Homo sapiens: one gene and its partners. The protein of the gene in region 1 purifies or fractionates together with the protein of each later gene. This does not show direct contact. Each region holds a gene or a part of one and is shown in the gene's direction. Other genes may lie near its edges. The genes, in order: WDR59, ANO1, GRB10, CRNN, NRF1, TBL1X and EPB41L2.

Evidence for each region.
Region 2: the proteins of WDR59 (region 1) and ANO1 purify together in Homo sapiens (affinity purification with mass spectrometry; one large-scale study listed by BioGRID and IntAct). This does not show direct contact.
Region 3: the proteins of WDR59 (region 1) and GRB10 purify together in Homo sapiens (affinity purification with mass spectrometry; 2 studies listed by BioGRID and IntAct, with this or other methods). This does not show direct contact.
Region 4: the proteins of WDR59 (region 1) and CRNN purify together in Homo sapiens (affinity purification with mass spectrometry; 2 studies listed by BioGRID and IntAct, with this or other methods). This does not show direct contact.
Region 5: the proteins of WDR59 (region 1) and NRF1 purify together in Homo sapiens (affinity purification with mass spectrometry; 2 studies listed by BioGRID and IntAct, with this or other methods). This does not show direct contact.
Region 6: the proteins of WDR59 (region 1) and TBL1X purify together in Homo sapiens (affinity purification with mass spectrometry; 2 studies listed by BioGRID and IntAct, with this or other methods). This does not show direct contact.
Region 7: the proteins of WDR59 (region 1) and EPB41L2 purify together in Homo sapiens (affinity purification with mass spectrometry; 2 studies listed by BioGRID and IntAct, with this or other methods). This does not show direct contact.

Annotation. Positions count from the first base shown.
Region 1 is NC_000016.10:74,975,124-74,978,623, reverse strand, and holds part of WDR59 (GATOR2 complex protein WDR59), read left to right. Parts: intron 1-3,500. UniProt on the Homo sapiens protein: As a component of the GATOR2 complex, functions as an activator of the amino acid-sensing branch of the mTORC1 signaling pathway. The GATOR2 complex indirectly activates mTORC1 through the inhibition of the GATOR1 subcomplex.
Region 2 is NC_000011.10:70,084,817-70,088,316, forward strand, and holds part of ANO1 (anoctamin-1), read left to right. Parts: intron 1-601; exon of another isoform or gene 602-702; coding exon of another isoform or gene 703-726; exon of another isoform or gene 727-854; intron 855-2,935; coding exon 2,936-3,268; intron 3,269-3,500. UniProt on the Homo sapiens protein: Calcium-activated chloride channel (CaCC). Plays a role in transepithelial anion transport and smooth muscle contraction.
Region 3 is NC_000007.14:50,671,397-50,674,896, reverse strand, and holds part of GRB10 (growth factor receptor-bound protein 10), read left to right. Parts: intron 1-238; coding exon 239-461; intron 462-3,500.
Region 4 is NC_000001.11:152,411,464-152,415,635, reverse strand, and holds the start of CRNN (cornulin), read left to right. Parts: upstream 1-1,372; 5' UTR 1,373-1,422; intron 1,423-3,389; 5' UTR 3,390-3,402; coding exon 3,403-3,540; intron 3,541-4,172. UniProt on the Homo sapiens protein: Promotes cell proliferation, G1/S cell cycle progression and induces expression of the cell cycle regulator CCND1. Regulates proliferation induced by pro-inflammatory cytokine response via activation of NFKB1 and PI3K/AKT signaling pathways.
Region 5 is NC_000007.14:129,656,720-129,660,219, forward strand, and holds part of NRF1 (nuclear respiratory factor 1), read left to right. Parts: intron 1-623; exon of another isoform or gene 624-626; 5' UTR 627-632; coding exon 633-855; intron 856-3,500. UniProt on the Homo sapiens protein: Transcription factor that activates the expression of the EIF2S1 (EIF2-alpha) gene. Links the transcriptional modulation of key metabolic genes to cellular growth and development.
Region 6 is NC_000023.11:9,685,058-9,688,557, forward strand, and holds part of TBL1X (F-box-like/WD repeat-containing protein TBL1X), read left to right. Parts: intron 1-2,959; coding exon 2,960-3,218; intron 3,219-3,500. UniProt on the Homo sapiens protein: F-box-like protein involved in the recruitment of the ubiquitin/19S proteasome complex to nuclear receptor-regulated transcription units. Plays an essential role in transcription activation mediated by nuclear receptors.
Region 7 is NC_000006.12:131,056,746-131,060,245, reverse strand, and holds part of EPB41L2 (band 4.1-like protein 2), read left to right. Parts: intron 1-3,500. UniProt on the Homo sapiens protein: Required for dynein-dynactin complex and NUMA1 recruitment at the mitotic cell cortex during anaphase.

The DNA of each region.
Region 1 (3,500 bases):
GTGTACTCAATCTCCATCCCTTATCTCTGGCAGCTGCTGATGGGATTTCTATAACAAATGGAATCATGTGATATGATGTGTAGCCTTTTGAGTCTGGCTTTCATTTTTGTTTTGTTTTGTTTTGTTTTTTGAAGGGACAGAATCTTTCTCAGTTGCCCAGGCTGGAGTGCAGTTGCACAGTCCTTGCTGAGTGCAGCCTCCAGCTCCTGGGCTCAAGTGTCCTCCCATCTCAGCCTCCTGAATAACTGAGTCGACAGGCATATGCCACCAGGCCTGGCTCTTTTTTTTTTTTTTTTTTTTTTTGAGACAGAGTCTCACTCTGTCACCAGGCTGGAGTGCAGTCGCACGATCTCGGCTCACCGTAACCTCTGCCTCCTGAGTTCAAGCGATTCTCTGCCTCAGCCTCCTGAGTAGCTGGGATTACAGGAGCCCATCACCACGCCTGGCTAACCATCTTTGCCAGGCTGGTCTTGAACTCCTGACCTCACGATCCACCCACCTTGGCCTCCCAAAGTGCTGGGATTACAGGCGTGAGCCACTGTGCCTGGCCAGTCCTGGGTAATTTTTAAAAATTTTTTGTGGGGGTGGAATCTGGCTGTTGATGCCCAGGCTGGTCTTGAACTCCTGGCCTCACACAGCCCTCCCACCTTGGCCTCCCAAAGTTTTGGGATTACAGGCATGAGCCACCACCCTACCTGGCGTCTTTTGCTTAGCCTAGTGCTTTTGAGATTCATTCTTGTTGTTGAGCCTATCTGTTAGTGCATTCCTTCTTCTTGCTGAGTAGTGTTCCAGTATATAGACTGCAATTTGTGTATTCATTCACCTGTTTATGGACATTTAGTTTTTTTCCAGTTTTTAGTGACTGAAGAAAGCTGCTATAAGTAGATAAGTATCAAGGCCAATTTTTATTTATTGATTTATTTATTTTTCTTTTTTGAGACAGAATCTTGCTCTGTTATCTACGCTGGAGTGCAGTGGCACGATCTCAGCTCACTGCAAGCTCCGCCTCCCGGGTTCACGCCATTCTCCTGCCTTAGCTTCCCGAGTGGCTGGGACTACATGCGCCCGCCACCACACCCTGCTATTTTTTTGTAGTTTTGGTAGAGATGGAGTTTCACCGTGTTAGTCAGGATGGTCTCGATCTCCTGACATCGTGATCTGCCCGCCTCGGCCTCCCAAAGTGCTGGGATTACAGACGCGAGCCACCGCGCCCGGCTGCATTGTCTCTTTCTTATAGATTAAGAAGAGTGTAAAAATTTTTCTGGATTCCAGTTCTGTATGGTTATATATATTGTAAATCCATTCTCCCAAGTTGTAGCTTGCCTTTTCATTCTTTTTATGGTATTAAAAATTTTTTTTTAATTTAAATTAAAATTTTTTTTTTGAGATGCGATCTCGCTGTTACTGTGGCTGGAGTGCCTATTCACAGTCACGATCATGGTGCACTGCCTCCTTGAACTCCTGGTCTCAAATGATCCTCCTGGTTCTGCCTCCCAAGTAACTGTGTCTGTATTTGTGAGTTACCACTCCCAGCTATGTGCTGTCTTTTGATGAACAGAACTTTAATTTTAATGCAGTTAAATTTATGGATTATGCTTTTTCAGTCTTGTTGTTTTTGTTTTCAGACAGGGTCTCGCAATGTCGCCCAGGCTGGAGTGCCGTGATTTTGAATCAGTGCAACCTCTGCCTCCTGGGCTCAAATGATCCTCCTGCCTTGGCCTCTTAAGTAGTTGGAAATGCAGGCACACACCACCAGGCCGGGCTAATGTTTGTATTTTTTATAGAGCCATGTTGGCCAGGCTGGTCTCGAACTCCTGGGCTCAAATGATCCACCTACCATGGCCTCCCAAATTCTTTTTAAGTCTTCTTAAGAAAAATGTTTAGGCCGGGCTTGGTCGCTCACACCTGTAATCCCAGCACTTTGGGAGGCCAAGGTGGGCGGATCACAAGGTCAGAAGATCGAGACCATCCTGGCTAACACAGTGAAACCCTGTCTCTACTAAAAATACAGAAAATTAGCCAGGTGTGGTGGTGGGCACCTGTAGTCCCAGCTACTCAGGAGGCTGAGGCAGGAGAATCGCTCGAACCCAAAAGGTGGAGGTTCAGGGAGCCAAGATTGCGCCCTTGGACTCCAGCCTGGGCGACAGGGTAAGGCTGCGTCTCAAAAGAAAAAAAAAAAAAAAGAAAAGAAAAAGAAAAACGTTCGTATCCTAGATTCATAAAGAAATTCCTCAATATTTTCTTTTATCTTGAAATTGAAAATGAATCATCTCAGCAGAAAGTATACTCTCTTCTGACCTAATAATGGTTGGTGATTTATTAGTCTCAGCATTGCAACAGCTTTGCCACAAAGATAAAGATTGAGGACTGTGTTTTACTCTAATAAAAACTAAAATAAAAAAGCACAACTCAAATTATTTGGCTAGGAGCAAAATTATAAGTAATTAATAATCTGTGTGTTTTTCTGGAGCAATCCAGCTTCGGTTCCTACTTTTTTAGTTTCATACAATGTTCATTTTGAAAAACTATAGAGATGGAGGGGCAGAATAGGACTTTTTGGTGTAAGTGACTATTAATATGTATACTGTGAAATATTTTTTCTTTTTTAAATAAATTTATATATGTGTATTTTAACATCGAGATGGGGGTCTCACTGTGTTGCCCAGGCTGGTGTCAAACTCCTGAGTTTAAGTGATCCTCCCACCTTAGCCTCCCAAAGTGCTGTGATCACAGGCATGAGCCACTGCACCTGGCCTATTTTTTTTTTCTAGAAAATTTAATATAAAGATGTGGTGATGAATGGGAGAAGAACAAAGACGTTAAGGATTTCGTGCCAGACTGTGTTAAGATTTAGGTTATGCCACCTGTCTTCCATGTGATCTTGGGCAAGTTACTTCCTTTCTAAGCTTCAGTTTTCTTTTTTAAATTTTTTTTTCTTTTTTTTACTTTTTTTTTTTTTGAGACGGAGTTTCACTCTTGTTGCCCAGACTGGAGTGCAGTGGCATGATCTCGGCTCAGTGCATCCTCCACCTCCCAGGTTCAAGCAATTCTCCTGCCTCAGCCTCCCAAGTAGCTGGGATTACAGGCGCCTGCCATCATGTCCGGCTAATTTTTTGTATTTTTAGTAGAGACGGGGTTTTACCATGTTGGCCAGGCTAGTCTCAAACTCCTGACCTTAGGTGATCCACCCGTCTTGGCCTCCCAAAGTGCTGGAATTACAGGCATAAGCCACTGTGCCCAGCCTTGTTTTTTTTTGTTGTTTTTTGAGACAGAGTATTGCTGTCTCCCAGGCTGGAGTGCAGTGGCGCGATATAGGCTCACTGCATTCTCCAACTCCTGGGTTCAAGCGATTCTCCTGTCTCAGCCTCCCGAGTAGCTGGAATTACAGGTGTGTGCTGCCATGCCTGGCTAATTTTTGTATTTTTAGTAGAGACGAGGTATCGCCATGTTGGCCAGGCTGGTCTTGAACTCCTGACCTCAGGTGATCCACCGACCTTGGC
Region 2 (3,500 bases), on another chromosome or scaffold:
TCCCCATGCCCCTCAGCACCAGAGACAGAGCCCTGCACTGGGGTCAGCCAGCAGGAGTCTGGTACTCAGGGCCACTGAGCTGGGCAGCTCACCCGTGGGAGCCTCAGTTTCCTCCAGGTCAAATGGACCTAACTATAGTAACCCCCTCATAGGGTCAGCTTGTGGGGACTCAGCGAGATGACATACCTGGGCCGAGAAACAGCGTCACCCTTAGTCGCGGCTCCTACTAAGGGGGGCCGCACCTTGGGCGTGCAGATGGGACTTGAGGCTGAGCTCAGCCTCCCGCCTGCGCTGTAACCCGGGCTCTCCTGCCCTGCTGGGCCTCAGTTTCCTCCTTGGCGAATTGAGAAGAATAGCTCTTTCGTGCTTCTCCTGCAGAAGGAATGCAGGCCCCCCGTGCTGGCTACAGACTTGCGATACTGGGGTCTTCCGTGAACCCCGTCCTTCATGGGGCTGGGCATGGGAACCCACTGCCCTCAAAAGCCAGCCCTCCCCCACCCTTCCCCCTGAGCCCTCCCAAGCCACCCACCCACATGGGCGTGGTCGTGGCCCCTAAGCACCCTCAGACTTTGTCACAGAGGGCAAGGTGGGCGGGGCACGCACACTGAGTCCAGGTCCTCCTGAAGGTCACCAGCACAGCGGGGCCCTGTGTTACTGTAGAGAGAAGTCAGTTGCTTAGTTTCAGCCTCCTGCCGGCACCAGATGCTGACCAGGCCCTCCCAGGTGGTGAGCAATGCTGTTTCCAGGAGAGGCATCCTAGGGCCAGAGAGGCCAAGGTGCCAGGGACATGGCCCCAACTGTCCCCTAACCAGGGGTAGAGGAGTCTAGACCCTTGACATCAACACCTATGAAAGGTGGGGCAGCCCCCAACCAGCAGCCCTGGCCCAGAGCCTCCTCTCTCCTTCCCCTACAACTAAAAAGGACAGCCTCCACTCGAGGCCTTCCCTCCCCCTCTCCCCCACTGCAGTGCTGACTGTTTGGGGAGGGGCTCCACCCTCCGGCTTCCCTGATACACTTTGGGTTGTATACAGCCCACCTGCCTCGAATGAGGGATTCTGCCTGCCCCTTTTCCCGACCAGTGCACAGCCATTTAGAGCCATGGTGCAGCCGGAAGCTGCCCAGGGGCTCCAGGCGACCACGTGGGGGGACCCTCCAGGCCAGCGAGGCCCAAGCACAGCTCTGTCCAAAGGCCACAGGTGCTCGGGCCCTGCCTGGCGCAGCATGCCGTCCCTGCACTCCATCAGGGAGGCCCTCTTCTCGGATGATGCCCCTCGGGAACTGATAGTGCCCTAGGGAGCGTCCTCACGTAGCCACAGGAAACTGAGGTGGAAACCAGGCGGCCAGCTCGAGGGATGAGGCACAGCTCTGTGGACCATTAGCAGCTTGGAGTTGCCTGTTAGGTTCTACCCAGCATGGCTTTTTTTATTTTTTCTTATTTCGGAAACCCAGATTGCTGATCGACCTGTCTGTCTTGATAACCGGCCAAACCCCTCGGGAATTCCAGCAATGCAGGCTTGGCTTTAGCAATGGTCCCATCACACTGCCACTGTGGGAATATCTGGTTTTTAAACAAACTGCTCCATACTGCTATCTCCCGTGGCCCCCTAGAGTCCTTCAAACAAATAAGGAAACTGAGGCAGGGCAGGCCCTGTTGGAGCCCTAACCCCGCCCCCTTGGTCACCCCAGGGCACCCACCAGCGGTGCCCATCCATACCAGTGGCTCACTGTCCTCTGCACCCAAAGGTGACTGACCGTGCAGGTGCTGCCGCAGGCCACGTGTGGGGAAGGTGCAAGCGCAGGGTCATTAACACCCCAGGAGTGACCCCCAGCCAAGAAAGGGCCAGAGCGGGTGCATGATCACCCAACTTCCTCACCCTCTGGGTACTGGCAGTGGGATGTGCCCTTCAAGGTCACTCCGAGGGTCCCCAGCAGGACGGACCCCAGCTGCACATAGCGGTGGCCGCTCCTTAACCCACCCCTGTCAGCCTCCCTCCCCTTCACCCTACTCTGGCACCTGAGATCACCTCCCAAGTAAAACGCTTGCACCCCTGGCCTCTGCTCAGGCTCTGTTTGGGGGAGAGCCCTGACTAAGACAGTGAAAGCCTCACCTCTGGACACACAGCTAGTTAGTGGCCCTGTGGCCACCTTGACATGGCACTGCCTCTGACACTGGCCATCAGAGATTGAGATTTGCACGCACAGAACCTGAGCTCAGCTCTGCCTCAGCCCCTATCCATGTGCATGGGGAGCCCTCATTCACTTGGTAGCTTTTGCCATAGCTTTTGTTGCTGGGGGATATTTTGTTTGTTCATTTAATTTTTAATTTGGGTGGGTACATAGTGGGTGTATATATTTATGGGGTACATGAGATATTTTGGTACAGGTAATGCAATACGTAATAATCACCTCATGGAAAACTGGGTATTTTCCCCTCAAGCATTTATCCTGTGTGTTACAAACAACCCAGTTATGCTCCTTTAGTTATTTGTCCATGTACAATTAAATTATTATTGATGATAGTCCCCTGTTGTACTGTCAAATACTAGGTCTTATTCTTTCTCATTATTTTTTGTACCCATTAACCATCCCCTACCATAGCTTTTTGCAAGCAGCCAGGGAGGTTCCTGACATCCAGCCTGCTCTAGTTCCATAGACCAGGAGGGCTTCTGGGGGACCATATGTGGCTTGGCACCTTCATGAATGATTAGCAGTGAATACCTCCTTCTCGAAGTTCAGCTCCCTGAAGGCAGGGTCTTCTGCTGTGTTCCCAGGTGTATCTCAGGCCCTAGGACAGTGCCTGGCCCGTGGAGGGCGCTCAGGGAGTGTTTGTTGAACGAGTGAGTGAGGAGTGAGTGGATGAAGGGAGCAGCGCACCCTCCAAAGGCCCATCACGAGCAGCTCGATGGTGAATGGGTGTCTTTTCTTCCACCCTTAGCTGCTGAACTCCTTATCTGTGGACCCTGATGCCGAGTGCAAGTATGGCCTGTACTTCAGGGACGGCCGGCGCAAGGTGGACTACATCCTGGTGTACCATCACAAGAGGCCCTCGGGCAACCGGACCCTGGTCAGGAGGGTGCAGCACAGCGACACCCCCTCTGGGGCTCGCAGCGTCAAGCAGGACCACCCCCTGCCGGGCAAGGGGGCGTCGCTGGATGCAGGCTCGGGGGAGCCCCCGATGGACTACCACGAGGATGACAAGCGCTTCCGCAGGGAGGAGTACGAGGGCAACCTCCTGGAGGCGGGCCTGGAGCTGGAGCGGGACGAGGACGTAACTATCTCACTGCGCGCTGTTTGTGGGGGGTGGGGGGTGGGCTGCGTGGGGGGCAGTAGGGGGGCAGCTGCTTCCATAGTCAGAGGGTGCGAGGCTGGTATCTTGTTTTAGCTTTAAGCTGTTCTTAAAGAAGGGGCAGACGGGCCAGACGCAGTGGCTCACACCTGTAATCCCAGCACTTCGGGAGGCTGAGGGGGGTGGTTCACGAGGTCAAGAGATCGAGGCCATC
Region 3 (3,500 bases), on another chromosome or scaffold:
GTAGAAATGCAGCCCAGCTCTAATGATTGAATTGTCTCTGGAATGTCAGTCATGATGAATACATGTAATATGCATGCTTCCATACAGTCATACTTGTCTTGGTGTTTCCCCTCTACCCCTTCCATAATATTTGAAAAATAGGATTGAGGTTTGGAACCTGATCACCAAGATGTACATTTGGGTTTGATTGCTCTCCATTGTTAAAGTTTCTTTTTTGCTCTTGCCTTTTTCTGTGCAGAGGATGATGTGGACCTGGAAGCCCTGGTGAACGATATGAATGCATCCCTGGAGAGCCTGTACTCGGCCTGCAGCATGCAGTCAGACACGGTGCCCCTCCTGCAGAATGGCCAGCATGCCCGCAGCCAGCCTCGGGCTTCAGGCCCTCCTCGGTCCATCCAGCCACAGGTGTCCCCGAGGCAGAGGGTGCAGCGCTCCCAGCCTGTGCACATCCTCGCTGTCAGGTAGGTCCAGGCCTTATGGGCAGAGCCTTCTCCAAGGATGAGAGCTGTCGGCAGGGACACTGCTCTCTGTGAGTTAAATGGTGTTGGGGGGAATAGTGTTGGTCTTGCAAAGTCAAGAGGCAGATACATTGCTTTGATGGGATAACGGATACACTGAGTGTGTGCAGTGTGCCGCCCTTGGGTTGAACTTTGTAGCCAGTTCAATTCCAGTAGTACCTTTTATTGAGTGCCTGCTATGTGCAAGGCACTGTGCTAGGTAGAGGGATATGCAGGAAAACCACCAGAGGAAAAATCTCTGGAAAGATTGGAAGAACAGCCATGGAGCTGATTGCATGCCCCAAGTCCTCACTACCCAGAGTAGGGACGGGAGGCTAGCAGCTACAGCACCCCCTGGAGCTTGTCGTGCAACCCCAGACCTCCCTCAGAGTTGCATTTTGCCACATTCCTCTGCTAATTCAGGGGTAGGCACATCTCTGTGGAAACAGGGAGGCTGGAGGGAGGAACGTGCTGGGGACGTTGAGGGAGGTTCCTGGGAGGTAGGATTTCTGAACGGATGTCAAAGGGTGATAGGAGCTCAGATAGATGGAGGCAGAGGTTTTGTGAGCAGAAGAGATGATGCAGATGGGGGCCGGTGCTGAAGCACTTTGTGTGCCTTTTTCAGGAGCCACGTGAGAAAGAGTTCTGGACAGGCGTGTGAAGGGGCTGGGTTTGGGTTTTGACACCAGCATTCTGGTTGCCAGGGGTCGTGGGGGCAGTGGTAGAGGGCAGCAGGGTTGGCAGAGCATGGCCGGTTTGGAAGTGGTCTCAGGAGCCCCCGGATGGGAGATGATTGTGCGCTGCCTGAGGATGAAGAAGGAGGGGGGATTTGAGCACGTTGCTGAGGAGGAGCAGCTGCGTTTTGCCAGCACTTGAATTTTGCCAGGGCTGTGAGGAGACAGAGAGTGTGTGGAGGGTGACTTGGATTTTGTCTCGAGTGCCTGGGAGGAGGGTGTCTAGAGAATGGTCATGTCGAAGGTGAAGGTGCTGAGAGTACCTTAGACATTCTGAATGAAGATCTTTGTAGAATCAAGCTGAGAGCCAGGGGCAGCCCTCAAGGATCCGCCTGTCTGCCCTGTCGCAGTCGGGATGGCGTGGGGCTCCGTGGGACCCTGCGTGCCTCTCTGGGCCTTTGCGGAGGATGTACAGCCATCTCTGCTGGGACTGCCCCTTGCCCTCACTGGCCTCTGTCAGGATGGGGTTCTGGTGCCTTCTGTCTCAGCACCCCATCTTCCGGGGAGCTCTGTTCATTTCCTGGGCTCTTCTTGCTTCTAGAAACTTCTGAGAGTTTTCTTTGTGGTCTGACATCTTGGGTCTTCCGCAGCCCAGATAATCACCTTGCCCCAGGTGGCAGCTGTTTCTTACGGAGGGGAGAGGGTGCAGCGGCCCTGGCGCCCGTGGTCAGCTGCCTCCCCAGCTTCCCACCCCGGCTTCCCCTCCGACTTCTCACTTTTTGTCATATTCATTGATGCTGAATGATGCCTGTCCCAGGGTTTGTTCAACTTTGCTCTTTGAAGCGTGACCCCTTGTACTTAGCTCCTGAGGAGTTAAGTCTGGTGGGAGAGCTGTTTTTCTCTTGGGAGCATCTCTTGGGAGCATCACAGTAGCCTTGGGGAGTGCCTGGGAATATGGAGGTGCAGTTGCATGGCGAAGGTGCCCGAGGGTGGGCTGGAAAGCCAGAAGGCCTGCCTCCCTGCTGGAGTAGTTGCCCAGGACCCTTGAACCTCGAGTTCTGGCTGAACTCGCCCATATGTGCCCCGGGACTACCTGCGCTAAGTCCCTGGGATGGAGGGGCAGGCTTGCTCTGTGGGACAGCAAAGCCCTCTCCCTACAGGGTCACAGGTGCTGTTCCTTGGGCCCAATGTCTTCTCTCTGGTGTCCTCTCAGATAAGTAGTTTTGTTTCTTACTTTCAGGTGGATTAAAAAAAAATGTGGAGATCAATCTGGAATCACCAAAGATTATTTTGTGAAGTGAGGCCATTTGCTGAGTGCTTACTGTGTGCAGATGCTGATGAGCTCCTCCTTGTTATCAGTGCCCTCGGAGGGAGGCAGTGTGGGTTACCCTCGCTTCCCAGCTGAGGAAACCGTGGCACAGCGGGGCGGTAACTGGGCTCACCACATCAGGTGGGAAGTGGCCATGGAGCAGGCTGCTGGGTACCAGAGGTCACGGAGCATGGTCCACGCTGCAGAGGAACTTACCGGGGGCTGCCATGCAACCCGAAGGGAGCTGGGGGGCAGGCAGGGTATGGGCAGAGGAGACACTTGGGAAGGGCAAGAAGGCTTTGCACATAGGAAAGCCGATGGGTGAGCCGATTCTGTACAGAGAAGGAACCCAGGCTTTTGAGAGTGCAAGGGCCACGCATGTGTTCTAGACAAACACAAGTGAGCCAAGGCACAGAGAAGAAGGACCTCGCCCCTCAGCTCTGCAGTTCCTGCCACCATCCCTGACATCCCTAAATCTCAGCACCCCTCTCCATAGTCACTGTCCCTTCTATTGTGAGCCTCTTTGGTGGGGATTTTTTGTCTTTGTGTGATATCCCTTAGTCTTGCCTTAGGCGATGTCTCTGAGCCGCTTTAAAGTCAACACAGGACTTTTTAAAATGCTCAAAACAACCCAATAAATAGAGAAGCTTTTGTGGACACTAAAACGTCAGATTATCTTTTTGGGGTGAAGTCACTGGCTAGAAGCCGTGGATGGGAAAGTGGCACTGGCCACCCGTTTTATCCATCTCCTCCTGTATGACAATGGCCAGACGTTTCAGTTGGACGCCTTGCCAAGGCTGAAGCTGTTATGGGAAGAGTGGGATTTGTTCACAGTAAAAATAAACTTTATGGCATGTCATCAAACCATTATAGGAACGGCTTTCCTGTATTTCGCAGCACTGATTCCCTTCATGCCATGTGAGTTCTCGTAATTTTAAATCCATGCATCATTTGCTGGTCTACGTGGGATAGTTAGCTGGATCTTCCTTTAAAAAATAGGGAAAGTTGGTAAAAGAGAAA
Region 4 (4,172 bases), on another chromosome or scaffold:
AAATGGCAGCATGGTGCAACAGAGAGAACACAGGCCTGGAGTCTGAGGGGCTCTAGTCCAGCACCGTCTCCGCTTCACAGAGTGGCTACTTCTCTGAGGATTTCTCAGTGTTCTCATTTATGAATTGGGCTTAGCCATACCACCTCAGAGGATTGCTAGGGAGATCAAATAAGATGAGATGGTAATGAAAATGGAATAAAATCAAATGAAATGAAATGGCAATACCATTATCATTAACCTCTTGGGGACTTACCCCTGGGATGGCCAGGCTATAGACTTCATGAGAGTTGAAACTGCTGCCATCGTATTCAACACTGTATTCCTAGGGCCTTAGCCCTCTGCCTGAAATGGAGCAAGCTTTCCATAAATATTTGCTGATTAGCCACCAGTTGAGTTTCCTGTCCTTGCAATGAGGAGTTACCACATGATCATGGTAAGCCTTTTTTCTCATCAGCTACAAAATGCTACCTACCCATAGCATGGGGTGGGGAAGGTATTAACTTTTTTTGTTTTAATTAAAAATGAGACCAACTTTAAAGAGATGAAACTGGCTTTCTTGTGTCTCATACACTAGGTGTGAAAGGCACTTACAAAACAAGAATTCAAAAAATGTTCTAAGTAATAACAGTTCTAAGTAACATCACCACAAAAACATGTGTGCCCTCTCAGAGTGGCTACTTTGTAAAAGTTAACCTCAATAGATATATTCTTGAACATTTATATTAAAAAAGGAAACAGTGGCCAGGCACGGTGGCTCACACCTATAATCCCAGCACTTTGGGAGGCAGAGGCAGGTGAATCATGAGGTCAGGAGTTCAAGATCAGCCTGTTCAACATGGTGAAACCCTGTCTCTACTAAAAATACAAAAATTAACTGGGCATGGTGGCAGGCACCTGTAATCCCAGCTACTCAGGAGTCTGAGGCAGGGAATTGCTTGAACCCAGGAGGCGGAGGTTGCAGTGAGCCAAGATCGCACCACTGCACTCCAGCCTGGGCGACAGAGCAGGACTCCATCTCAAAAAAAAAAAAAAAAAAAAAAGGAAAGAGTCCCATAACTTTGTAGGCTCATAGAGACAAAGAATGTTCACCAGGACCCCAGCCTGTACCAAGCACTGCTGAGCCCATCACAATGGAAAGAAGCTTCCCTGTCAAGAGGACTCAGCTACAGAAGGTACCAAATGTGGTAGGAGGGGCCTGTTAATTAGACCAAGGCAGTCACACATCAGCAGGTAAAACAGAGACAAGAGGAGGTGTGGCTGGGCTGGGCTGGATCTTGGATGAATCAAGCCTTCCCATAGGGCAGGATATCCTGTCTAAAACAAGAGCCTTGGTTAAAACCCCTATAAAAGGTTCTCATCACACTGACCTGGTACTCCTCACACCACTTAACAGCCACTTGTTTCATCCCACCTGGGCATTAGGTAAGTCCCCTCATAAGAAACCTCTTTCTCATTCTCAGTGTCTTGGTGATCTGAGCTCATAAAACTGGGGCAGTCAGGTATGGACTATGCATCCTTCAGAGCTAGCTGTGAGCACTGGGCAAACCAACGCTACCGTTGGGAAACATGCTCTCCTGAAGCAATCAGGCTTTCTCCTCCTCCCTGAGGCTGGCCTGGGAGCAGCTCCTCTCACTGGGAAACTGTGTGGGCAGCGGCTATGGGGCCACCCATGTGCCTTCCTGGATCAGCAAAGGTTTCTTTTTTCTAAGGCTCTGGAAGCTTCTTTGCAGTGCTGAGAGTCTATGGGATCAGAATCAGTTTACTTATGCCAACCTAGACAATAAGATCAAACTGTGTCATGGATGAAGGGGTTTACATGATTCCCCTCTCCTACACCAGGGTGATATTTAGGCAAAATATGTGTAGATTTTTCTAAGGAATCTAAAATGTAACTAAAAGGTCATCTTATTATTTTATTATCTAAAGGTCAGTGGTTAAAGTCTGCTACATGGTTTTAAAAAAAAAGAAAGATATTTTTCATCTATGTTGAGGAAAACATCCCCAGTTTTTTACCTTGATGAAAAGTTTGCCTGAAATTGTTGGTTACCAGGTCCTAGAAAGGGTTTCTCCTGAACAGCCCACCTTTTGCTATGACTTACTGAGTCCTCATGGCCACACTAATCTGCTTTTTCTAGAACTCAAGTCTCCTTCCTTCCTTTTTTCTCTTTCTTCTCCTACCTATATCTGCCTCGTCCCATCCTCTCTCTGGCTTTCCAGCTGCTACAGGCTCCATCTCCCCTTGCATTTGAGACTTGTCATCTTTGATACCATCTCCTCCTTTGGGTCTCTCCAAGGCTTCTGCTTAATGAATCTTCAAGTCTCTTTTCCTTTTGCTCATGCAACCAAACCCAGGCCTCACCTCAACCTACCTCTAGATTTCTGGCTAATGAAAAAGAAAAGCTTTCCCTTTGATTAGGAACCAACTCATAGGTCACCAGAAATCTGGGCCTGATGGAGCCACGTGCCTGTTGGGCAAGCTGACTTCTCTGATAAGTCTCAGGGCTGTGGACAGAGGCGACATGCAGAGAAACTTGGACCCTCAGAACTGGAAGGCCTCCCACCCAAAGAAGGTTCCCCCCTCCTGAGCATTCCCAGCAGGTGGTAGCCCAGTTTCTTCCCACTTTCCCAAAAAAAACAAGAAGGGAGGGCTGTGTCCCTGGAATTTCTGCTTGGCTCCCATCCAAGACAGGGGTTGACTCACAGATGTATTTACTTCCTTTTGGTGTTCCCGATGGGACCCTAACACCCTTGTGATAAATAAATAAATCCTGTCCACAGGGTACATTCTAGAAAGCCCATTGCATTTGGGTTAAGGAAAAATGGATCCTAGGATTTCTTGGCTCCTTAAAAATTGTGTGGCCTAACTTCTCTGAGCCTGTTTCCTCACCTATAAAAAAAAGTGGAAATAATAAGGATTAGAAGAGATGATGTACAGGAAAGTGATTATATAGGTGTACAAAAATTATATGTGTGTATATGTATATAATAGCATAATAATTATATTTAATAAGGAGCACTTAATATAAGCCAGGCATCTGCCAAGTGCTTTTTATGAATTATGTCTTTAAATCTTCACAATAATCCCACAGAGTACTAATATCACCTTCAATTACAATGAGTAGTAAACTGAGGCATGGAGAGGCAAAGCAACTTGTCCCAGCTCACACCATACTTAAGTGGTGGGGCCAGCATTTAATCCTGACTCAGGAACCTGCCTCCATCCTGTGTGCTCCTCCTTCCCATACATAAGATGCATTATGTAGGAAAGGACAAAGGAAAACTAAAAACAGAGCTGAACGTGCAAGGAAAGACCTAGCAGCAGACGTGCTATAAAGGAAATAGCTGAGGTTGATTATGGAGCCTCCAAGGGAACTTTTCATCTTTTCCAGGTTGACTTCAAAGATGCCTCAGTTACTGCAAAACATTAATGGGATCATCGAGGCCTTCAGGCGCTATGCAAGGACGGAGGGCAACTGCACAGCGCTCACCCGAGGGGAGCTGAAAAGACTCTTGGAGCAAGAGTTTGCCGATGTGATTGTGGTACGGTGTGCTGAGCCGGGTGGAGAGGGGACATAGCAGGAGAGTGAAACCTGGTTTGCCTGCAGAGGCCTTGCCTGGGGAATTTGAGGAGGCAGCAGCTAAACCCAGGCCTGCCGGGACAGATGGCAGCTGTGCAGGCAGAAAAAAAGGTGAAAGAACCAGAGATGGTCATGGGAGTTGGCAAGTCCTGGCTCTTTAGATTAAAACCTTGGTTTTAATTAATTCTAACTTAAAGACAAGGTAAAAGGGCTCTAAAAGGACAACTCAGACAGGAGCAGAGCCTTGGAATATTTCAAAATGAAAATAATTGCTGCTTTCTGCCGCCTCTTAAATTTGATACAGTAAATATTTCCCACGTCTATCTGAAATGTAATCATCCATTCATAGACATTCATTAGAAGCATAGCTCTGGGCTTGCACGAAGCAGTTACTCAAAAATATTAGCAGACTGATCACATCAGAAATGAAATTTTGAAGAGCAGGTTGTTAATAGCTAGGGGGAGACTTTGGAGCCTCACCCCACCCCACCTGGCAAACCAGAACCAAGGCCTTGATGCACTTTCCTGTCTTTGGTTTGCATCTAAAGCAACCAGGATGATGATGGCCTTAGGGACAAGGACATATGGGCACAG
Region 5 (3,500 bases), on another chromosome or scaffold:
GCCCACCACCACGCCTGGCTAATTTTTTTGTATTTTTAATAGAGACAGGGTTTTGCCATGTTGGCCAGGCTGGTCTCGAACTCCTGACCTCAGATGATCCACCTGCCTGGGCCTCCCAAAGTGCTGGGACTACAGGCACTTGCCGCCATGCCCTCAAGAAGCAGTTTTATAAGCAGAAAGACCAATTTGAATTTTTGGGAAAAAAGTTATTTGACTCTCACTCGTCTTTGACATACAAAGAAAATGTTAAGTATTTCACTTATTTACTAAGTGTTCTTATGTTCACAAGGCCAAATGCTAGTCACTGAGCTATCTTAAGTATGTTTTTATTGTTATATTTGAATGTCTTTTTATTATTAAGGGTATCTGTTGTTTTGTGATCTGAGGTATAAAATTAGTACAGCGAATTTCCATCAAAATGGTTTCACGTAAGAACACCACTCTGTCATTTTTATGTCACATTTGCATGGTGCTTCCCATTTCCTGTGACTTGGTGTGGCACGGTAAGTAGTGAAATTGGAATTTTGTCAAGGTTCCTCTGCTCTTGAATAAAATATCTCTTAGTTTAAACATTGTGTTATATTACACACTGAATCCTGTTCTTTTTCTTTTTTGTCTGACAGTAGAACTTCATGGAGGAACACGGAGTGACCCAAACCGAACATATGGCTACCATAGAAGCACATGCAGTGGCCCAGCAAGTGCAGCAGGTCCATGTGGCTACTTACACCGAGCATAGTATGCTGAGTGCTGATGAAGACTCGCCTTCTTCTCCCGAGGACACCTCTTACGATGACTCAGATATACTCAACTCCACAGCAGCTGATGAGGTGACAGCTCATCTGGCAGCTGCAGGTAGTGTTGTTTGGATTAGAAGCTCTTCTTTAATTTTTTTTTTTTTTTTTTTGGAGACAGCGTCTCACTCTGTTGCTCAGGCTGGGGTGCAGCAGCACAATCATGATTCACTGCAGCCTTGATCTTCCGGGTTCAAGTGATTCTCCCATCTCAGCCTCTGGAGTAGCTGGGACTGCTGATGTGTACCACCACATCTGGCTAATTTTTGTATATTTTGTAGAGACAGAAATGTCACTGTGTTACCCAGGTTGGCCTCAAAGTCCTGGGCTCAAGCGATCCTTCTGCCTCGGCCTCCTAAATTATTGGCATTACGGGTGTGAGTTACTATGCCTGGCCTTTATCACAACTTTTTTAAGCCTTGCAGTTATAACTTGAGCCTGTATTATACTGAGACTTGAGGTCTGTAATCACTTACTATCAGTGTTATGGCTTTGGTTTTATTTTTTCATCTATTCTGCCTATGTTTTGGCTTTAAACTGAAGCATTTATTCCAATTACGTTAAACAGAATCACTGACATGTATTTAGATTTAAATTTACCTTCTTTTCTATATGCTTTCTCTTTGCCCTACCTGTTCTGTTTACTTTTCTCTTTCTTGGCGTTTTCTTTTGTAGTGATTGAAAATTTTGTATTTTTTCATTTTTTTCTTGTTAGTTTGAAAGTTATAAGCTTTTACTATTATCAATACCTGTAGAAATTGTAACATACATCCTTTATTTATCAATGCCTTATGTTGACTAGGCTCAGTGGCTCACACCTGTAATCCCAGCACTTTGGGAGGCCAAGGTGGGAGGATCACTTGAGCCCAGGAGTTTGAGACCAGCCTGGGCAATGTAGTGCAATCCCATCTCTACCAAAAAAAAATTAGCTGGGTGTGGTGACGTGCTCCCTAGTCCCAGCTACTTGGGAGGCTGTGGTGGGATGACTGATCACTTGAGCCCAGGTGTTTGAGGGTGCAGTGAGCTATGATTACACCACTGCACTACAGCGTGAGTGACAGAGTGAGAGCCTGTGTCCAGTTGAAAAAAAAAAAAAAAAGGAAAAGCAAAACGTTGTATGTACTTGGAACTTTTAACCTCTACAGGGATAATACAAATTTCTTAGAACACTTGCATTTCATGCGCCCATCCTATATGCTATTGTTGTCCTTTGTATTCATTTTTGGTATACAGTTGGCTCTCTTTATCTGTGGGCTCCACATCTGCACATTCAACCAATTTTGATCAAAAGTATTAGGAAAAAATTAAAAGTAACAATATAACAATTAAAAATAATACAAATAAAAGGCCAATACAACAACTATTTGTATAGCATTTACACTGTATTAGGTATTATAATATTAGTATTAGTAACCTAGAAATGATACAGAAGGACGTGAATAGGTCATGTGAAACTACTACACCATTTTATATCAGGGACTTGAGCATCTACACATCAAGATGCTAGAAACAATCTCAAGAGGATTTGAAGGGACAACTGTATTTTAAACACCACAGGACTTTTTTTTTTTTTTTTTTTTTTTGAGATGGAGTCTCACTCTGTCGCCCAGGCTGGAGTGCAGTGGCACAATCTTGGCTCACTGCAGCTTCTGCCTCCTGGGTTGGAGCAACTCTCCTGTCTCAGCCTCCCGAGTAGCTGGGATTACAGGTGTGCGTCACCATGCCCAGCTAATTTTTGTGTTTTTAGTAGAGATGGGGTTTCACCCTGTTGGCCAGGCCGGTCTTGAATTCCTGACCTCGGGTGATCCACCCATCTCGGCCTCCCAGAGTGCTGGGATTATAGGCGTGAGCCACCGCATCCAGCGAACAATATTTTTATTTAAAAAATAATGTTAATTTTTTTTCCTGCATCTCCAACTGGTCTCCTGAGATGGTTTTACTTCTGCCTAAAGACACCATTTAATATTTGCTTTAACATGGATCTGCTAGTAACAAGTTCTATTTTTGCTTGTCTGTGAATGTTTTTACTTAAACTTCAACCTTGAAGGATGTTTTCACTGAGTATGGAATTCTAGCTTGGTGGTTATTCTTTCCTCATGTTGAAGGTACTGTTCCACTGTCTTCTGGATTCCATTGCTGCTATTGAGAATTCAGCTATTTCATTCTAACCGCTACTCTTTCAAAGATTATCTCCCACATGGCCTGCCCCCCTCTCCCGGAAATTTTAGCCATGAGATTTTGCTTCTGCTGCATTCCATCTCTTTTCATTCCATGGCTCCAGTTACTTATGTTAGTCTTCCTCACTTGTATGTCTCTTAACCATCTGTTCTGTATGTATCATCTTTCTGTGTAGTTTCTTCTGTCTTTCAGCTTGTGAAAGACAGAAGATTTTCTTCTTTAGCTGTTGTATTAGTCCATTTTCATGCTGCTGATAAGAGATACCCAAGACTGGGAAGAAAGAGGTTTTAATGGACTTACAGTTCCACCTGGCTAGGGAGGCCTCACAATCATGGTGGAAGGCAAGGAAGAGCAGGTCGCATCTTACATGGATGACAGCAGGCAAAAAGAGAGAGAGCTTGTGCAGGGAAACTCCTCCTTTTAAAACCATCAGATCTTGTGAGACTTATTCACTATCACAAGAACAGCATGGGAAAGATCTGCCCCCATGATTCAATTACCTCCCACCGGGTCCTTCCCACAACATGT
Region 6 (3,500 bases), on another chromosome or scaffold:
GGATGGAAAAATAAATGCACATTAAAACTGTGCACTTGGCTTGGAACCCCTCCCACTTTTTACATTGGTCCACAGTGAGGAGTTGTGCCAATTTTATACCAATTTTGGTTTTAAACCACACACCTCACCCTCTCTTGTCCCCTCCTATTCTGGTCTCATGATTCTGCAGTGAAGATCCCCTTGACTTCTGGGGAATAATGGGATCCACAACCTTTCTTGCCGCCTTCACCTGAGTCCCTATTTTATTTTTAGAGACTGAGTCTCACACTGTTGCCCAGGCTAGGGTGCAGTGGCACAGTCATGGCTTACTGCAGCCTCGACCTCCTGGGCTCAAGTGATCCTCCTGTCTCAGCCTCCCAAAGCACTGGGACCACAGACAGTCCCTGTTACTGATTTCTCAGTCCCCTGCAGCTTCCTCCCTCTGCTTCTCTTTCTCCTACTCTGACCCAGGCGCGTGATTCTACTGAACTTTTCCATACTGTACCGTCATCCATCCCACCTGGCAGTCACATTCTTCCAGGATTCCCTCTGTCCCGTCTTTCTGGGAACTGGTCTTGCCCTTACAAACCTTTCTCCTTCACAGCATGTTACACTGCTTTAAAAAACTCTTTTAGAAAATCACAAAGTAATAATATCCTGTTCTCTTTTTCTTTTCTTTTCTTTTTTTTTTTTTTTTTTTTTTTAAGACAGGGTCTCTCTCTGTCACCCAGGTGGGAGTACAGTGGTACAATCATAGCTCACTACAGCCTCAACCTCCTGGCTCAAAAGATCCTCCTGCCTCAGCCTCCTGAGCAGCTGGAACTTATAGGTACACACCACCACGTCCAGATAATTTTTTTATTTTTTGTAGAGATGAGGTCTCGCTGGTCTTGAACTCCTGGGCTCAAGCGATCCTCCCGCGATCCTCCCGCCTTGGCCTCCCAAAGTGCTGGGAGTACAGGCGTGAGCCACTGTACCCAGTCCCTGTTTTCTTTCTTGCACTTCTGCCTGCCATTTTTCGCAAAGCTGTGGCTTTCGAAACTCCGGTGTTTTTTCCTCTCTTGTGCTCCTTTTTCCCTGGCAAACCCCTTCACACTGTGTGCCCGGGATCTTCCACTGACTCCTTCTGGCCCTGTCTAGTTTCCTCACTGCAAAACACACACGTGTGTATCTAAGAGGACATGTCTCCAAGGTCCAGCCAGCCATCAGATCTCAAGGCGCCTGTGACTCTGTTTTTCTCTGCTCATTGCCTTCTACCTCTCATCTGTTGAGAAGCCTTCATAGTTGCCTTCCCTCGGCACTCCAGATTCCAGCACTCTAGGGGCTAATGAAAGACTGTCCCATTTGTCACAATGGTTTCTAATCATTAAAAAGTGAGACGCCAGGGGCGGTAGCACACATCTGTAATCGCAGCACTTTGGGAAGCCAAGGCAGGAGGGTTGCCTGAGGCCAGAAGTTCTAGACCAGCCTGGCCAATATAATGAGACCCTATCTCTACATAAAATAAAAAAAATTAGCCAGGTGCAGTGGCACATGCTCGTAACCCCAGCTACTCGGAGGCTAAGGCAGGAAGATCAGTTTGGTCCAGGAGTTTGAGGCTGCAGTGAGCCATGACTGTGCCCCTGCACTCCAGCCTGGATGACAGAGCGAGACCCCGTCTCTAAGGAAAAAAGAGAGACAGTGTGCCCGCGGAGTTTAAATGAGGACATGTTGTTACTACTTTGGACAGTTACCGCGTTTTGTCATGGGCTTGTTCATTTGGGTGTGAACATATGAAGGAGGAAGGGGGTGTGGGAGCGTCTTGACCCATCGGTCACCATTGTCCACTCCATGGCCAGAATCAAGGGCCAAGAGTGCCTGAGGAGGTGATGCAGCTAGTTCTTTACATAGGTTGTATTGTTTTCTTTATTTTGAATATTGTCTTGTAATCAGAAATCATCTGGAGTGATGTTTCATTTAGTTATTCTTCAGCTGAAACCTGAGCCTTTCAGTTCTTCCTCACTTCTGAAGTAATTCAGGTTCAGAGCATATAAACATGTGTTTGCACATCCAGATACAACCCCAAGGCTTACTGAGGTTCACCTGATTCGAATATCTGGCGTGTTTCACAAGGAAAGAACCTCCTGCTGTATTTTTAAACGTGTGTGGAAAGTTTTCCATGGTAAACGGAAATCAGAGAATCAAAGAATGGTCAAAAAAACATGAATCAAAACAAAATGATGTCAATTGTGTCATGGCTATGGTTAGTCTAACCCTGAACCCAAGGAGTCATTTCAAGTAGCAGCAAGTGCCTATTTTATTAAATCCCCTGGACAGATGGACTTGGAATCCAGGCCTAAATGCTGTGTGCATCTCATTTGGGCTCTGCTTCTGAAGCGTTACCCTCCCATATAATGGATGGTCATTTGCAGAGATTTTGCACAGTCGCGATAGCACGTGGGCAGGTCTTCTCCACCGCAGCACTCAGTATTTGGGGCTGCGTGTTTCTCTGTGGTGGGGCCATCCTGGGCACTGTTGGATGTTGAGCAGCGTCCCTGGGCTCCACCCACCAGATGCCAGGAGCACCTCTCCTCCCTTAGTTGTAACAGCCAAAAAAGTCTCCAGACGTTGCCTAATGCCCCCCAAGGAGTCACAGTCACCCCCCGCCCCCGCCACGTTGAGAATTGTGCCATCAGGGATAGCACTTTCTGTCAAGAATAAATGGCCTTTTTGTCCTCAATGCCCCAATTGGGTTTGACACTCAGAACAACCATCACACTTAGTTCTTACCAACAGTTTGTCGTGTCCCCTTCCCTGCCCACCGTGGGATCCCTTCACCCCAGGCTCCAGGTCCATGCCGCTTCCCCCGTGGCCCCCTGGTTGCTGGGAGCCAGCTGTTTACGCCCCACTTCCCTGCGCTTCTCCTGCCCAGAGAGCAGAGGCCATTCCCAGAGCCCTCACCCCCGTGAGCTGACAGCTGTACCTTGGCTTGCTTCCCCAGGATGGCACAGTGTTCGACGGCCGCCCCATAGAGTCCCTGTCACTGATAGACGCCGTGATGCCCGACGTGGTGCAGACGCGGCAGCAGGCATTCCGAGAGAAGCTCGCTCAGCAGCAAGCCAGTGCGGCGGCGGCGGCGGCTGCGGCCACGGCAGCAGCGACAGCAGCCACCACGACCTCAGCCGGCGTTTCCCACCAAAATCCATCGAAGAACAGAGAGGCCACGGTGAATGGGGAAGAGAACAGAGCACATTCAGTCAGTGAGTGCAGGGGCTCTGGGAGTTCGGTGGGCCTCTCTGGGTTCATTGTTTTCTTCTTGGGCAAATCCGAATGCCTTCTTAAAAACCTGCCTGCTATAAATGTCTTAGAAGCTGCTCTCTAGTGTTTGCTTACGATCTGGCCGGAAGAACTTCCCGTTCCATTTTTTCCATCACAACCCTTGGACCTGAGCTTCTTCACCCTCATCTTCAACTTTAGGAAATCGTGCTGCGCCTGCTAATCTGAGAACTCTCATGTAACACATGATTATTGCCCGTGATAAA
Region 7 (3,500 bases), on another chromosome or scaffold:
ATTTTATATAGCAGAATGCTAAATATTTTTGAAGGTTTTGTTTTGTTTCTGTTTCTACTCTGTCTCTACTAAAAATACAAAAATTAGCCGGGCATGGTGGCGCACGCCTGTAATCCCAGCTGAAGACATGGGCCTTTTTCTTTCTTTTTTGAACTGAAGTAGCCTGTTTAAAAGCTATGTGTGGGCTTTTTATTGAAAAGTGTGAATTGCTACTAGTTTTATAAGGCAAATAAACAGTTTATAGGGATCAATACCACTGAGTCACATTTTGCATTTCTAAAATCTGTGCTGTTTACTTGGAGAAAACAAAAGAAATGTGCCTACCTCCTCCATCCCACCTTTATTTAGAAACATTTCCAGTGGGCTTGTTTTTTTCAGATTCAGAATTACTGTACCTAACCACTGGGTACCCTTACAGATTTCAAAGCCTGAAGTAAATGTTTATGCTGGCTTTCGTAGTCAGCAAATAATAGCCAAACCCTAATTCACTGCTCTTTTATAGAATCTTGGAATCTCAGGGCTGAACCGTTAGGAGTCAGCAGATCCACTCTTAGCCCTAGTCTCTTCCTCTCAACATGCAAACAGTTCTAATGTCTTTGGAATGTCTGAGCAAATAGAAGATTTGTATGCGATTCTGTCACCAATTCTAGACAGAACATCCTTTGGGATGCCATGTTTTGGCATAAACCAGCAACTTGATATTATGAGATTTGTATCATTTCTCTGCGTGGGCAGTGCCCTAGACTAAAATCTAAAATGGAGTCAATGCCTGATGTCATTAACTATAGGGAAATGGCCTCCAAGTTAGCTATTAGAGTTGTTTAGGAATTATAGCTGGGCGCGATGGCTCACGCCTGTAATCCCACCTCTTTGGGAGGCTGAGGCGGGTGGATCATGAGGTCAGGAGATCGAGACCATCCTGGCTAACACGGTGAAACCCCGTCTCTACTAAAAATACAGAAAATTAGCCAGGCGTGGTGGCAGGCATCTGTAGTCCCAGCTACTCGGGAGGCTGAGGCAGGAGAATGGCGTGAACCCGGGAGGCAGAGCTTGCTGTGAGCGGAGATTGCGCCACTGCACGCCAGCCTGGGTGACAGAGCCAGACTCCATCTCAAAAAAAAAAAAAAAAAAGTTATAGGTAAGCCAAGAAGGAAAGAAATAAATAATCTCAGTTATCATCTAGAAATGATTTATAGTTTTTGTTGCTGTTGTTGTTTTTATTTTGTTTTTGAGACACAGTTTCACTCTGTCGTTCAGGCTGGAGTGCAGTGACGTGATCTTGGCTCACTGCAACCTCCGTCTTCCCAGTTCAAGTAATTCTCGTGCTTCAGCCTTCCAAGTAGCTGGAATTACAGGCGTGTGCCACCATGCCCGGCTAATTTTTGTATTTTTAGTAGAGACAGGGTTTCACCATGTTGACCAGGCTGTTCTTGAACTCCTGACCTCAAGTGATCCACCCGACTTGGCCTCCCAAAGTGTTGGGATTACAGGTGTGAGCCACCGCACCCAGCCGGTTTATAGTTATAGCTAATAGATTTTGGTAGCTTTTTCTATAAAGTATGTGTATGTGTGTGTATTTCATATGAGAGAGGGAATATTATAGGTATTTGTGATGTGAAGCACCTACTCATTGTATTTAATAAATATTTGATGAATTAATTCATTGAACCTTTAATATATTAGAGGTGAAGAATCTTTAGTGAAGATTCTTTGATAGAGTTGACATAGAAATGGGTAATGTTTCATGTAGAAATATCATGTCGGTAATGTTTATTTGCTTTTCTAACCACTGATATTGTTTCTCCTGGTTTTGTGGTTGGCTTGGGATCTGTGTTGTAAGTTTCTTAGAGGCATGTTTTTCATGTCTAGGAGAGTAGATAGGCTATATATTTCCATGGTGTTGGGATAGTATTAATTTTAATTAGAATTTCAGAGGCTTTCTGAATTTTCTTATTTTAAAGTGATGTCTCTTACTTCTTGGCATTGGAATAGATTTCATGTGATCTATGAGTGCATTCATACTGCTTCTGGATATTTTTTCTTCAAAGATTGCAATTGAGCTAATTTCATATTCTCAGTTATCTTTAAAATGGAAACATGTTTTCACTTCACAGATACCTCTCTGAATTTTGCATATTTTCACTCTACCTTATTAGAGCCATAAAGTCAAAAAGTACATAGATTGTCTCCCAAATAATCTGGAATAAATTGAAGGATAAGAACAATCTTTCCTGAGATCTGACCTGTATCTTAAATAAGGTTTTGCTTTAGATAGCCAAGTTGAAATTTTGCATAGATAACTAAGTTCGGCATCATGGGGATCATTTTAGTTCTTTCCAGGTTAGGAGGCATGGAAAGGCTCCCAAAGTGGTTTTGTCACTGTTCATCTATCGGACCTTATTGCCTAGGTCAGGTAGGGTAGTTCATGCATTTAAATCAAATCTTTCTGAAGAGACCAGTTTCCTCTTGCTTTGCTCTTAGGGCCTCACCATCAACCTTCATGAAAGAATTTTCAAATACTTAAAAACTTATGTTACCCTTCAGTTGCCTTTTTCCAGGATAATTGTGGTTTTAAAAAGCTTGTCATATAGTTCTGATTACCAACTCTGAAGTCACCTTTTCCAAGCCCTTGTATTTACGTTTCCAGACCTGCTGATGAGCTTCAGGGCTGGGCCATTATAACAACAGTGCTGAATTCACTCATATTTTTCAGAGTTTCCTACATTCTACTGATATATGTACATATCCCAGTAGCTTGAAGACATAAAATTAAAATGTGATTTACACTCTGCCATAATTCTTTGTTTCTTTCTCTTTTTGTCCAGAAGCTACTTGTTTTTCACCCTAGATTCATTTACCTTGAGGGAGATTATTTGGTTCAGACTCCTGACCTGGGGTGGAGAGTGGGGTTCTTGGGCCTCATGGGTGCATAAACTGCCTGAGACTGTAAGTGAGGTATTGTGTTCCCATGTGCATGCACTCCTGTGTGTGTGCAGCATCTCTGTGTGTGTGTGCACAAGTGGATGAGAGAGACAGGTTAAGGGAGAAAGAGAACTTTAGGAGTGGTTTTTGAAAGGGTTTTGGGAAACAGAAAAGATTGAGAACTGATGTTTCAGTTCTTATTTTCGAGATTAGAAGATGGAAGTTTTAAGAGTATTTTGTTTTTCTCTTTTTTTTTAATTTTTTCACCCTATTGCACTTTTCATCATTTATTCTCCCCTATCTCCCATTGTACTTCTTTCCATTCAATTGAATTCATTTAGTTGACCCCCATTTACCTAACTGTCAAGGTTAAACTGAATTCTGATATAATCCTGGCCACTCATATTCTTACCTGTGAACTTAATGAATGTGCATTTATTTCCTTACAAATTTCTTTGATGGAATATTGATTAGAAGGAATCAGTAACATGTCCACTCTATTTGATGCTGGTTAGACTGCCACATATGCCATTGTGACCTTGGGCAAATTATTTCTCAAAGCCTCGTTTGCTGTAGTA